2 linked regions of the Homo sapiens genome follow. The protein of the gene in region 2 interacts with the protein of the main gene of each other region in a biochemical or structural test. Each region holds a gene or a part of one and is shown on either strand. Other genes may lie near its edges.

Region 1 (3,752 bases), on a different chromosome or scaffold from region 2:
TTACCAGGCTTACGAAGTGTCATATCCTTTGAAATTCAGGTGAAAAATATGTTTCTCATTTTGCCAGTATAGAAAAAGGATGTATCCGTGGCTCCATATAACTATAGAACATAAACTGAAATGCAAACTGTTTGGTTGCCTTTAAAAAGCATATTTTGACCAGGTACAGTGGCTCACGCCTGTAATCCCAGCACTTTGGGAGGCCAAGGCGGGCGGATCACCTGAGGTCAGGAGTTTGAGAACAGCCTGGCCAACATGGCGAAACCCCATCTCTACTAAAAAAAAAAAAAAAAAAAAAAAAAAAATAGCCAGGCATGGTGGCGGGAGCCTGTAATCCCAGCTACTCGGGAGGCTGCGCACGACAATCGCTTGAACCCGGGCGGCAGAGGTTGGCAGTGAGCCGAGATTGCACCACTGCACTCCAACCTGGGCGACAGAGCAAGACTCCATCTCAATTAAAAAAAAAAAAAAAGCATATTTGACATATCAGCCAACTATAATGTATGAATTCAAGCTGGATTCTAATTTGAACAGTTTAAAAATTAGAAATGTGAGAAAATTTAAATACTGCATATTTGATATTAAGAAAATATGATAAAAGTATTGCTTTTTTCTTAAAACAGGCTTTATCTCTTCTAAAAGCTTTAGAGAGGAAATGATACTGCATTTGCTTCTTCATTTATAAATGAAATAAGATTGGCCACTGAGCTGCGCTGTTGAGTACATGGGGGGCTAAGTACATACCAGGGTTTCTCAACGCTGGCACTACTGACATTTTAGGCCGGGTAATTCTTTGCTGTGGAAGGCTGTCCTACGTACTGTAAAATGTTTAGTAGCATTCCTGGTCAGCCAAACCTTTCTCCAGCTGTGATAACCAAAGATGTCTTTAGACATTGTCAAATGTCCACTAGAGGGCAAAATCACCCTGTGGCTGAGAAGCATTGATAAATAACATTCTATTTTTTTAAATTTTCCTATAATAAAATATTTTAAAAAATAGTTTTGACTGAGTGTGGTGGCTCACACCTGTAATTCCAGTGCTTTGGGAGGCTGGGACAGGAGGCCTGCTTGAGCCCAGGAGTTAGAGACCACCTTGGGCAATACAGGGAGATCTCATCTCTACGAAAAAATTAAAAATTAGCCATGCATGTGGTGGGGCACGCCTGTAGTCCCAGCTACTCAGGAGGCTGAGTCGGAAGGATTGCTTGAGCCCAAGAGGTCAAGGTTACAGCAAGCTGTGATTGCTCCACTGCACTCCAGCCTGGGTGACAGAGCGAGATACTGTCTCAAAATCAAAATAAAATCTACAGCAAGCTTGTCCAACCCACAGCCCTAGGGCTGCATGCAGCCCACCACAGCTTTGAAAGTGACCCAACACAAATTCATAAACTTTGTTAAAACACTGTGAGATTTTTTTTGCAGTTTTTTTAAAGCTTATCAGCTATTGTTAGTGTTAGTGTATTTTATCTGTGGCCCAAGACAATTCTTCCAATGTGGCCCGGGGAAGCCAAAAGATTGGACACCCCTGATCTACAAGCTTAAAAAAAAGTTTTAGAAATACTCTATGTACAGGTACAACTACATCTCCTTGTGGAGCCTAAGCTAGAGATCTGGGGCCCAGTAGAGGCTTTGCTACTAAATAGTTAGTGGTCTTCTGTCATTACTAGCAGCCTTTGTCACCTCTCTGAGTCTCAGCAACCTCACTGGATCAGATTGAGTAGTTCTTTTGAGCTATAACACGATGCAGCAACAGTGAACTTTTTTTTTGAGATGGAGTCTCACTCTGTCGCCCAGGCTGGAGTGCAGTGGCGCCATCTTGGCTCACTGCAAGCTCCGCCTCCCGGGATCACGCCATTCTCCTGCCTCAGCCTCCCGAGTAGCTGGGACTACAGGCACCTGCCACCACGCCCGGCTAATTTTTTATATTTTTGGTAGACACAGGGTTTCACCGTGTTAGCCAGGATGGTCTCGATCTCCTGACCTCGTGATCTGCCCGCCTCGGCCTCCCAGAGTGCTGGGATTACAGGTGTGAGCCACCGCGCCCGGCCTTTTTTTTTTTTTTTTTTTTTTTGAGACGGAGTATCCCTCTGTCGCCCAGGCTGGAGGGCAATGGCTTGATCTCAGCTCACTGCACTCTCCGTCTCCAGGGTTCAAGCGATTCTCCAGCCTCAGCCTCCCAAGTAGCTGGGATTACAGGTGCCCGCCACCGCACCCGGCTAATTTTTGTATTTTTAGTAGAGACAGGGTTTTGCCATCTTGGTCAGGCTGGTCTCGAACTCCTGACCTCAGGTGATCCACCTGCCCCGGCCTCCCAAAGTGCTGGGATTACAGGCGTGAGCCACTGCACCTGGCCAACAGTAAACTTTTATATACCCATTCACTAAGGGTGGACATTAATATTTGGAAATCAAACAAACAAAAACAAATTAGTGTACAAGGATGAAGATAATGTTGCAAGTTGTCTGCTTTTTTTTTTTTTTTTTTTTGGAGACAGAGTCTTACTCTGTCACTCAGGCTGCAGTGCAGTGGCATGATATCGGCTCACTGCAACCTTCACCTCTTGTGTTCAAGTGATTCTCCCACGTCAGCCTCCTGAGTAGCTGGAATTACAGGCATGCACCACCGCACCTGGCTAATTTTTTTTTTTTTTTGAGATGGAGTCTGGCTCTGTCGCCCAGGCTGGAATGTGGTGGCCCAATCTCGGCTCACTGCAAGCTCTGCCTCCCAGGTTCATGCCATTCTCCTGCCTCAGCCTCCCGAGTAGCTAGGACTACAGGTGCCTGCCACCACGCCCGGCTAATTTTTCGTATTTTTAGTAGAGACAGGGTTTCACCATGTTAGCCAGGATGGTCTCGATCTCCTGACCTCGTGATCCGCCAGCCTCAGCCTCTCAAAGTGCTGGGATTACAGGTATGAGCCACCACACCCGGCCTGCCTTTTCTTAGTCTTGATCTAATAAGCGACATTCTTATCACAGTTATATACAATTACTTAAAATTTAAATAAGATTCCTGGGGTAAGCACAATAAAAAGTATTTTTACAGAATACTAAAAGAAAACTGTTCTAGTCACAATAGCCAAAAATGTCCATCACTGGTGAGTGGATTAAAAAAAATTGTGGCACATCCAAACAAGGAAATACTTACTCAGCAATAAAAAGGAATGAACTACTGATACTGATACACATTCAAATAAATCTCAAAAGCACTACTCTAAGTGAAAGAAGACACAAAAGATTATTTACACTGTGACTCCATTTACATAGCATCCTAGAAAAGGCAAAACTACAGGGACAGAAAGCAGATCAGTGGTTACCCAGGGGCTAAGAAAGGGAGAGGGCACTGACTATACAGGGCCATAAGGGACCTTTCTGGCAATGGAAGTGTTCTACATCTTGATTGTGATAGCGGTTACATAACTATACGCTTGTCAAAATTCACCAAACTGTATACTTAAAACAGATGAACATTACATCTCAACAAACCTAACTTTAAGAAAAAAGGTTCTCAACAGAATGAGAGCTCCCATTCATTCTTGTACATTCACCACTCAATTGGCAGGAAGTCTAATACTTAGCAGTGCAGTAATGTAGGTAATTAATATGGACTATACCTGAGTTATAACACTGACACAAGGGCTCCACACTGTGAAAGCTACACAGCTCCTTCCAGAACATGCCAATGCAAGAGTTAAAAATGTAACAGGGCATGGTAAATTAATGCAACGATGTGTGATAAACTTGATTTTTAAAA
Region 2 (3,752 bases):
TCCATTTGCCTCTAGACCAACTTTGACTCCTGTGGAAAACTAGATCCTGCTCCTTCCGGCTACACATGTGTACAAAAATTCATCGCTGTTTCTTTTCTCAATCTTTGAGTAAAATCGATGGTGCCAGCAGCTGCTCCATGTTTCTCTTTGACTTGGGTGCCCCATGGCATAAGCCACAGAGCCTAGCATGATAGGTCTAACTCCAGGCCATTCTGTGACCAGGCTTGAGCCTACGAGAAGCTTTGGCTCAATCTGCTGGGCATGTACAGAGTGCCTGAGTTGAGAGGCGTCTACGAAGCCATCTGTTTAACTAGACTAGCTGGTGTCTGATGAAGAATTGGTTTCAGCAGGAAGCCATTTTACCAATGTCCAAGCAGACAGCTTCCTCCCTGAAGGGCCAGGGATGGTTTTTGAAGGAATAGAAACCAACTCTTGGCTGGGAACCCCTAAGTGGCTGGGGCAGAATCAGGGACCGTGCACATAGTAGATGCACAGGAAATGCACACTAAGCTGGACTTGTTAGCCTATCATATGTTAATTCCATATTTTATGTCCTCAACCTAGAAGCTGACTGTCACAGGCTGTGAGCCCCTGAGGAAGACAGACATAGATAAGGGTGAGCTCCTCACCCCGTGAAGATGCTCTAATAGCGGGATATGCAAGGCGCTCTGGCACCAAACACCAAGCCCATCCTAACATTGTGCAGTCTCATCTGGCTGTATCCAGACCAGTCTGACTGCCTCTGCTGCAGCCTCAGTGTCCAGGGAGCTCTAGCCTAGGATCCTAAGGCCTCATGAAGTCAGACTGGCACAGCCATGCCCCCTATTCCATCTGGCAGCTGCAAGCCACCTCCCTGGCCTGGGCCCTTTGCTCAGTCCTGACCTCTTCTGCTCCCAGCCCTGTAGCCCACACACTGAAAGCCCAAGTGCTGTTGACTTAGAGCTTGGGTTCATCTTCCCTAGAGGCTGGCCCTTGGTGTTCCATACCCTTCTTTGGCATGGAGTCCCCCAACCCCGACTTTTCCCACTCTCATTCCAAGCTCCCTGAAATAAAATGTCCAGCCCCAGCTTCTCAGTAGGGTACCCAGCCAAACCAACTCCAGCACTCCTTTCACTCTTCCCAACCAGGAAGGGTCAAAATGTGGGCACCAGGCTCTTCCTGATTCTCTTAGGACAGAAGAGACTCAGACAAATCCTGGCAGCCAGAACCTCAGAACCTGATGTTGTTGGAGGTCCCAGAAGCTGGGGGGGGGGGGTCTTAGAACCTGTTGTCTACCCACTTAGTTCCCTTCTCTAGAGACAAGACAAAGCCCCACTCCTGAGTCCTCATGCACAGGACACATTACTGGTTGGCCTGGCAGATTCAGATCAACAACAGCCCCGAGGTTAATGAGTACACTCATTTTACAGATGAGGAAACAATTTCATCTGTGGCTGCCCAGCAAGGCAATGGCAGAAATGAGATGCGTTCTCTGGCTTTCTCACTCTGTAGCTATTCTGTTGTCACCACAAAGCACACCCTCCTTGGAGTTATAACACATTCAACCTCTCAGCCAATCAGAAAAATGAAAAGCTGAATGTAGAAAAATAAGGTTGCTCTAAAAGCAGCAGCCCTTAGACACAGAACCCTGGGACGCTGGTATACATATGGTGCCAACAACGCAGAATGTAAGATGCTTGCACCTATAGGAAACCAGCAAGACTACCCAACCCGTTCCAGACCATGCCCAATCCTAGCAGGTGTGGGGCCCCAGGATCAACTGTGTGGGCTACTCATCACCCACCCCATCCCCCAAATGTTCCTAGAGTTGGAATGAAGTTGAAGAGGCACAGTAATTATGCCTGGAGTGGGACAAGGGAATATCGGCTCCTTGCGCCTATGCTTGGTGACAGTGTGGTGAGGATCAGAAACAAATCGTACATCCACAAGCCTGAACTAAAATTCCACATTGTTTATTCACGCAGCAAACATTTTGGCCCTTGGTGTCAGGCCTGTGGTAGGTCCTTCAGACACAGAGAAGAAGAAAACTTAATCTTTGTCTTCAAAACACTCACAGTTGAGTAGGGAGCTCGCCTCTCTCCTCAAAACTCACTCCCACAGTAATCACCAAGTGATGGCAATTCTTCCCTCCTGAAGAGCCTGGGACTCTTTCTCCCTGCCTTGCCTTGTTCAGGAGCTCATGGAACCCTGCCTGAGACTTATTGTAGCTATTCTGTTGTCACCATAAAGCACATACTCCTTGGAGTTATAGCACATTCAACCTCTCAGCCAATCAGAAAAATGAAAAGCTGAATGTAGAAAAATAAGGTTGCTCTAAAAGCAGCAGCCCTTAGACACAGAACCCTGGGATGTTGTGAAAGCATCAGTGGCTCCCATTGCCTTTAGAAAGATATTCAAACTCCCAACCATGACCTGGAGTACCCAGTAAGATCCACCCTTTGCTGGCCCCTCTAACCCAGAGCCACCCATCCCACTCTCCTCCTTCCTCATCCTGCTTAGGCCACCACTTTTCAGAGCTGCATGTGCCTCCCCTTTCCTATCTCAAGGCTGTGGCAGAAGCCATTCCCTCCACCTGAAATGATCTCCCACCAACCATGCCCTTAGAATGAACAGCTCCTTCTTCTCCTGCAGGTCTTAGCCTAAACGTCACCTCTGTCATCACGTGCATTTACAGCACTGGACTCTTCATTCATACAGCTGATCACAGTCTGTGATTACCTCATGTATTTGGCCAGTTGCAAACCATCCTTCTCCCCACTGGAATGTAAGCACCAGGAGAGCAGGAGGCAGGCAGAGGCAGGAGACTAATCAGGGGCTGCTGGAACCCAGAGTCCAGGTGAGAGAGGTGGAAGCCCTGAGAGGATGAAGGAACGGGGTCTTTACGATTAAAAAAAACTTCACCAAGAGACACTCACGTGGAAAATTGGCAAGACCTGCCATCCCATTGGTTGTAACAGAAAAGAAGACAGGATCAAACCTGAAGTCCATGGTTCTGCCTGAGGCCACCAGGCAGATGCATGTCACCAGTAGAGAGGGGAGAGCTGAAGACAAGCAGGTTTATGGGCAGTGGAAGAGGATGAGTGGCAGTGATCTCATCACATTTAATCTCAGGGAGGTCACATTTGAGAAGCCCAAGGGCAGAAAAGGGCTTTAATGCCCCCACCCTCTAGTATGGTAAGGACACTTATTACAGAAACCAGCGGAGCCCCACGAGGAGGACAGTGGGTGGTGTGTGCTGAGAGGGGTGGACCGAACAAAACGGCATGTGCAGAAGCTCAGCAGGTGGCGGCCCTGTTGTCCAGAGCCCAGGGAATGAAGTGATGTGGCTGCCAGGTGCACCGCAGGGGACGTGCAGGCTGGCTGAGAATAGTGCCAGCTGGGCAGAGCCTCATGAGGTCACTTTGGGGTCTGCCTGCACTCAACGCTTTCACAGCCTGGCCTGGCTGGTCAGCCTTTGCTTGCACTTCTTCAAGAGCAACGAGCCAGCACTGGGAAGTTGAATTTGGCGGCTCGTCTACACTAGGATTTCAGTTTTCAAGACTGCCAGGCAGGTGCCATCACTCCTCCTTCATAGTATTTGCCAAACCTGCACAGGAGAAGTAGGATTTGAACCTTCTCTCCCACTGGGTCACTATAGACAAATCCTTAACTTCCCTTCATCGATGATTTTCTGCCTCATTCTGAGGAGCCCTGGGGGCCACACTCCCACATCAATCAGAGCAGTCCCATTTTTAACTGTTTTATATGTTAGG

Evidence for each region. Proteins that work in one complex are often made in the same cells at the same time.
Region 1: the proteins of RASGRF1 (region 2) and MARK3 form a complex in vitro, tested with the Homo sapiens proteins (one study listed by BioGRID).

What each region holds. Positions count from the first base shown.
Region 1 is NC_000014.9:103,388,263-103,392,014, reverse strand, and holds part of MARK3 (MAP/microtubule affinity-regulating kinase 3), read right to left. Parts: intron 1-3,752. UniProt on the Homo sapiens protein: Serine/threonine-protein kinase. Involved in the specific phosphorylation of microtubule-associated proteins for MAP2 and MAP4. Phosphorylates the microtubule-associated protein MAPT/TAU. Phosphorylates CDC25C on 'Ser-216'.
Region 2 is NC_000015.10:79,084,079-79,087,830, reverse strand, and holds part of RASGRF1 (ras-specific guanine nucleotide-releasing factor 1), read left to right. Parts: intron 1-3,752. UniProt on the Homo sapiens protein: Promotes the exchange of Ras-bound GDP by GTP.